Linked DNA regions of Homo sapiens. The protein of the gene in region 2 interacts with the protein of the main gene of each other region in a pairwise test. Each region holds a gene or a part of one and is shown on either strand. Other genes may lie near its edges.

Region 1 (3,249 bases), on a different chromosome or scaffold from region 2:
ATTGTGGTTATAGTTTTCTTCTTTTTGCCCTGACTTTTACTTTATTGCCACTCTCATGGTGCTGCCCTGTAAGACCCTCTCCTCATTGGCTGCTTCTTTGATGCAGTAGATTATCCTTAAAGCAAGAGTCAATAAACTTTGGGGGTGTTTTAAGAGACAGCCTTTTGAGAAACATGCATGAGCTTTAGAGAATGAATTGTGTGACCTCCACTGCGACTAGTCTGTGGCCATTTATCCTCAATGATTTGGGTTTATCTTCAGATAATTGAAAGGTGCTAGATAACATGAGCTCTGAATAATAATAAGGCCTCTGAGGCCTTAGAGGTTTATTGTCTTCATTAGCACACTATTTAAATTTCTAGTGTCAATACCAATCATTTGCTTGATATATTTGGTTTTATTGTTTTTTCTCTTAGTGATCCCTGTCAATTAATCATAATTCAGTTCACCAGGAGTAAGTTTTTCCACATAAAGACCACTTTTGATCAAGACACAATGTTATATTTAAGTTATTAATTGACAGTCAACAACTTATTTATTAATATGGATTCATTAGCAAATGTGCCAATTAGTTTTCTTGTCTTCAGTTTTAACACATACAATAGTAACCCCGAAAGAAACTCACAGATTAACAAAAAAGAACAACACTCTAGGACTTGGCACGATTATTCCATAGGAAGAAAATTTATTTCATGTTGTGAGTGCAAATTTTAGTAACAATTCTGTTGAAGTCACTTTTCTAGGACTCTGTTTCCAAAGCAATTAGTTCAGCTATTCAAGATGAAACACATTATTTATCAAGATGTGATATTTTGAAATGTCACAGGAGAGAAACACATGACAAAAGGCAACACATTTGTTTAATTTCATTAGTTACAAGCGAACTTCTAGGTAAGTCATGATTTTCGATGTTTATAATATTTCTATTAAGATGTGCAGGTCTCAATGATAGTGATGAGTGGGTATGGCTGTGGAGAGATTCCAGGTGAGTCCAGCAGGGACCATCTGTGGGGACCCATTAACGACACTTCACAATCTTAAAACAACAAAGAGCTTTTATTTCATGGTGTGGTTTATGAGCATTCAGAAGTAATGTCATCTCTGCTTGGAGACTTTTCTAGCAGGACATTAGGGGGCTATCATCACAGGTAACCTGGAGAGTACATCTGTAGATAAAGATCCTGACTATTTTAAGTAAAGAAGAATTATTGGGGAAAAGAAGCTTTATGTCCAGTGATCAACAGGGCTGGAAAGAGCTGGCAGTTTCAGAAAAGAAGAAACCTCTCTTGACAGCTTTAGTATCATACCGTGGACTGGAAATGGCAAAAATCATCCCTAAAGACAAGCGAAGTGTTTTGAAGTGACTCTTCATAGTGAAGTAGCAACTCTAAATAGCCAAAATTTGCAACCATCGTTTACTCTTTTATATAAACACGAATCTGTTTTTGGCCTGATATAACAGCTGGGTAGATCTAGTAATTAAATGAATGATTCAGATCCAGGCGAGTATGTTTACTTAATTGAATTTTTGGCTCAGACATCATAATCAAAAGTGAAACAAAGGAAAAATTTCCTGGGTCATGTGTCTAGGCTTCAAGGACTAGGAGTCAGCAGCCCTACAAAATAGGAAAAACAGATTCTACTTACTTAGTGCTCTTCTTTCTCTTTATCTTAGAAATATATATTTGAGGGAAAGGGATGTACTAGAGTTTTAAAATTGGAAGAAGCTATTGGACTCCTTCATTTCTACAGATTTAAGTCCCATAGTTAATTAGTGTCCAGCCTGTTTTATTAATCAACAGGGGATTGAGTGTGCTCTGCCCATAATTCCCACTTATTGCTACTCAGAAAGACTTCCTAGAGTTCACATCTTTTATGCTATGAGGCTGGCCAAGAAGAGCAATTCTTAGTTTGCTAGGCCACATAAGCTGAAATCTTGCCAGTTTTTCCAGGCAACACATAATAGCTTGGTCACATCAGGTGGATTCTTGTGAAGAGATGATTAATAGGTTGAGTTAAAAAACAAAACAAAGCAAAACAAAACTTAAAGCTAATTCTTACCCTCCTTCATGTCTCATAATAGCTGTTTCTTGTATGACAGCTAGCTGTGTTTGGCTTTTCAGTTTTAAGGAAATCAAGTTCTCTTTGTATCAGGGAACATCTAGTTGAACTGAGCCAACGTGGGACTGATTTTATCTTGTGGTCACCAACCAAATTAATAGCATTTTCCATTTGCTGAATCTTTAGTATGAAATGTTATACAAAACTGAGAAGCTCTATATTGACATAGCTCAGTTAATATTTACTGAACATCCTACACAATGACATCTCTGGACTTGGCATCAAGAAAGTCTTCTAGATAGTGTAGATTATTTTGATTTCACCTGGCATTCAAATATGCTGGTAGCCTAACTTCCTTCTTGGGGGCAATGATTAGGTTAATACTAATCACTCTCCAGAGATAAACTCTTGCCCCATGAAACATTGAAACATCGCCTGCACAAGAGTGAGGGCAGCTATGTGTTGGGGGTGTCATGGGATTGGAATGCATATTCAAGAAACTATTATTTTGTAAGTTCCCCTACCATTGTGAGTAGTGTAGTGTTAACTTACAAAACCGTTTGCATATACTCTTCTGAGATTTGGCCTTGCTTCTTTGGGGTTAGATGGGAGTTTTCAATCAGTTCATAGACATCTTCCATGTTGTGGAGACCCTGCCTCATCTCGTGGGTAACCTTTTGAACCTGAATATCAGTGCTGTTCTTTGGAGGAACCCTCTGCCCCCGGTATGCCTGAGCCTGGCGTTTACAGATGCCAAACTTGCTGAGTAGGATGAACACATCCCTCTGGAAGGCCTTGGTGAAAATAGCATAGAGGAATGGATTGGCACAGGAGTTAAGTGGATAGAAGAGTACCAGCAAGATTTTGGAGTTGCTAACAGTGATGAGAGGCTTGTTCAGAATTGCTGACAGAGCATAGAATGAGATTGGGGCCATGCATATGAAGTCGGTGAAGATCAACACAGCCATCCTCTTGGCAATTTTGGTATCTTTGTCCCCTGGGTTGTACTGCGGATTTCGGACTGTGATGTAGATCTTCACATAACAGCAGCAGACGATGACGAAGGCAACTATGTTGAGCGTCAGAACAAAAACAATATATGCCAGAGCAAGAGGGGTCTCGGTGTCCATGGGCAGGCAGATACTGACTTTGGCATAGCTACTTATTCCCACCAAAGGAAGCAGGGCG
Region 2 (3,656 bases):
TGATTCCAAAGCATAGCCACAGCTGAGCAACAATGAGTTAAATCAACCCTGATGTTCAATACAGTGTCTGATGCAGCCGAACGGTCTATACATCCACAGAAGGGAGAAAAAAAGGCATAGCCAGAATTTCTAAGTGAAAAGAATACCAAATCCATGTTTTAAAGTGAAATGGAGGCATCTCCGCTGGGGCAAGACCTGTCACATGTTTGCTATTCCTAGAAAGACCTGCAATTAGCTGCCAACAGATGCATTATTTCATCAGTCCCATAAATACTCGATGAAAGTCTTCCGCTTTTCCTTTATGTCAGCCTTGCAGAGGTAGGAAGAAAAAAATCTTGTGACAAAATGCAGTACTGAACGATCATCATTTCCTTTTAAATGATTAAAATTAGCATTCATAAAAATAAAATATTTTAGTGAAATCTCATTCCAGCATACCTCTAAAGGCCCTTGGAAATTCTCCTCTTAAAATGAAAAAAAAAAAAATGCATTAGTACAATTTTTAAAAAGCCTCTTTCAATTATTAACACTGCAGCATAATACAATTCCATTTCAAACTCAGTGGGAAGCCAAGATTGCGCAGCAGAAAAAGTCCTAAATCAAGAGTTGCAAAGCCTGGATTCTAGTCCCAGTAATAAATTACATTAACTAGCTGTGTGATCATGGGCAAGTTGACTTAATCTCCCTAGGCCTCTGTTTTCTCAGAGAAAAATTAGATGACCTGTGAGTCCCACCCAGTTCTAAAATTCATAATACCAGGATATGGCTCCATCTTGCTGACTTTGTTTCACTAGCAAGTAAATGTGTTTAAAATTTAGAGAACTTACGAATTTTGAAATTCTAGTTAATTTAACTAATTCCTATCACTGGGCATAAATTGAAAGAGCAAAACTGTGAAGCATCATGAAAACAGCTCTATCTACTATCTATACTAGAACTGGAGCCTTCCTGCTTTAACTATGCCAGCCAGGTGATGGCTCCTCCCCCAAATGCCTGTCTTTCTTTTTAAATTAAAAAAATATATGATGAAAAGCAACTTTTGGCCACATCCTCACACCATTATTATTTTCTTTTCTTTTTTTTTTTTTTTTTTTTTGGGGGGGATGGAGTCTCACTCTGTTGCCCAGGCTGGAGTGCAGTGGCACAATCTCGGCTCACTGCAACCTCCACCTCCTGAGTTCAAGCAATTCTCCTGCCTCAGCCTCCTGACTAGCTAGGATTACAGGTGCCTGCCACCACACCCGGTTAATTTTTTGTATTTTTAGTAAAAATGGGGTTTCACCATGTTGGCCAGGCTGGTCTCAAACTCCTGACCTCAAGTGATTCACCCGCCTCAGCCTCCCAAAGTGTAGGGATTACAGGCATGAGCCACTACACCCAACCATTATTTCCGTTGGTTTTGTTTTTTAGACGAAGTTTCGCTCTTGTCCCCCAGGCTGGAGTGCAATGGCGCGATCTCAGCTCACTACAACCTCCACCTGCCAGGTTCAAGCGATTCTCCTGCCTCAGCCTCCCAAGTAGCTGGGATTCCAGGCGCCTGCCACCACGCCTGGCTAATTTTTGTATTTTAAGTAGAGATGGGGGTTTCACCATGTTGGCCAGGCTGGTCTCAAACTCCTGACCTCAGGTGATCTGCCCGCCTCGGCCTCCCAAAATGCTGGGATCACAGGAGTGAGCCACTGTGCCTGGCCTATTTTTTTATAGTCTCCTTTATGTTGACACATTTCTACTTAAATGTAAGTAATGGTTTTTTCCTAAATAATTTGGTATACTTTCAATCTTATTTCCTATTCAATATTCCTATGAACATTTTTCTTTTTATTTTTGGTTGATACATAAAAATTGTATATATTTATGGGATACAGGGTAACATTTCAATACATGCATACAATGTGTAATGATCAAATAAGGGCAATCAGTATATCCATCATGTCAAACATTTATTCTTTCTTTGTGCTGGGAATATTCAAAATCCTCTCTTCTAGCATTTTGAAAACACATAATAAATTCCTGTTAACCATATTCACCCTACAGTGCTAGGACATTAGAACTTATTCCACCCATCTAGCTGTAATTTTGTATCCATTAACCAACCTCCCCATCCCTGCCTCCCTCATACCCTTCCCAGTCCCTAATAACCACAATTCTAGTCTCTAAAAGTCATGTATTTTTAAAAGGAACTTCGTAAATAGAAAAGTTTTGCTTGCCATAAATGGAAGGAACCCATTAAGTTGACACAAAAAAAGCAATACAACTAGATTCTAGCTAAATACTGTTGCCCACAGAAGGCTTTAAGCATGAGGACCTCCTATCATTCTTACCGAACTGAAACAGAAATAGAAAGGAAATAACTTTCTCATCATGTAATTCAATATTACTTAATCCCACATCCACGTATCAACTAAAGTCATGCTACGAGCCACACAAGATCACGGCTGCACACACATCTCACATGTTGAGAGCAAAACAAAAGGTAGCCACTGAGCCTCTGCTGATGTGGAATGTGATTCATCCCAGGGAGGAAGGTGTCTTATTAGCCACATTGTCACCTGTGGCTCCCACTTGACTTCCTGTGTATTTGTGGTCCCCTCTATCTGAAAGCTCTCCTCCCTGTATCAACTCTGCAGCCAAACTCAGTTCTCTGCTCAGTGTCCCCTCATCAGAGAGGCTTTCCCTGACCACCCCCACCACCACACATACCGCTTCTCTTCATAGCGCTCTTCACCACCAAATGTTATTTATTCATTTGCTTATTATCTGTCCCTGCCCTTATCCCCTCCCTCTACTAGAATACATTGAACTCCATGAAAATAAGGGCTTTGTTTTGTTTACTGTTATATCTCCAGCACCTACTGTCTTGCACAGGGGTCCCCAACTCCCATACCGGTCCGTGGCCTATTAGGAACCGGATCGCAGAGCAGGAGGTAAGTGGCAGGCAAGCGAGGATTACCACCTGAGCTCCTCCTCCTATTGGATCAGCAGTGGCATTAGACTCTCATAGGAGCATGAACCTATTGTGAACTGCACATGCCAGAGATCGAGGTCGCGCACTCCTTATGAGAATCTAATGCCTGGTAATAATCTAAGGTGGAACAGTTTCATCCCGAAACCATCATTCCCCCCAACTCTCCCGTTGGTTGAAAAATTGTCTTCCACAAAACCAGTCTCTGACGCCAAAAAGGCTGGGGACCTCTGGTTTAGCACATGGTCAAGACTCAGCAAATATTTGCTGGATGAACGCATGAATGCCCTCAACTGATCTGGAGATCCTCCATTTGTCTTTATATACCCAGTACCTGGCATTCAGTAGGTCCTTAGGAAGTATATGAAAATCGGGCTGGGTATACACAGAAACCTGGGCCCTCTGCAGACTCTCCCTTTACCGAGGGAAGGGTCTTGCTATGGATACTGACCCACTGTTCTCACTCTAGCACACAGGACGCCACTAGGCAAACACTACTCAGTCACAGTGGAAGCACATGGATAGACTGCAAGCTAGATACACTGAGACCAACACTGAACTTACATGCAGAGCAAGGTCAATTACGTGGTATGATTGGAGGAACCTATGAAAAGAATCCCAAGCTAGAAACCTCTCTAATAAACCCATCACAATATCTAAAATATCTGCCATTAAGAGCTCAGTGACTTTAGAT

What was found. The genes of interacting proteins can lie anywhere in the genome.
Region 1: the proteins of CRADD (region 2) and TSHR interact in a two-hybrid assay, tested with the Homo sapiens proteins (one large-scale study listed by BioGRID and IntAct).

What each region holds. Positions count from the first base shown.
Region 1 is NC_000014.9:81,143,714-81,146,962, reverse strand, and holds the end of TSHR (thyrotropin receptor isoform 1 precursor), read right to left. Parts: coding exon 2,610-3,249; 3' UTR 657-2,609; downstream 1-656. UniProt on the Homo sapiens protein: Receptor for the thyroid-stimulating hormone (TSH) or thyrotropin. Also acts as a receptor for the heterodimeric glycoprotein hormone (GPHA2:GPHB5) or thyrostimulin. The activity of this receptor is mediated by G proteins which activate adenylate cyclase.
Region 2 is NC_000012.12:93,683,745-93,687,400, reverse strand, and holds part of CRADD (death domain-containing protein CRADD), read right to left. Parts: intron 1-3,656. UniProt on the Homo sapiens protein: Adapter protein that associates with PIDD1 and the caspase CASP2 to form the PIDDosome, a complex that activates CASP2 and triggers apoptosis.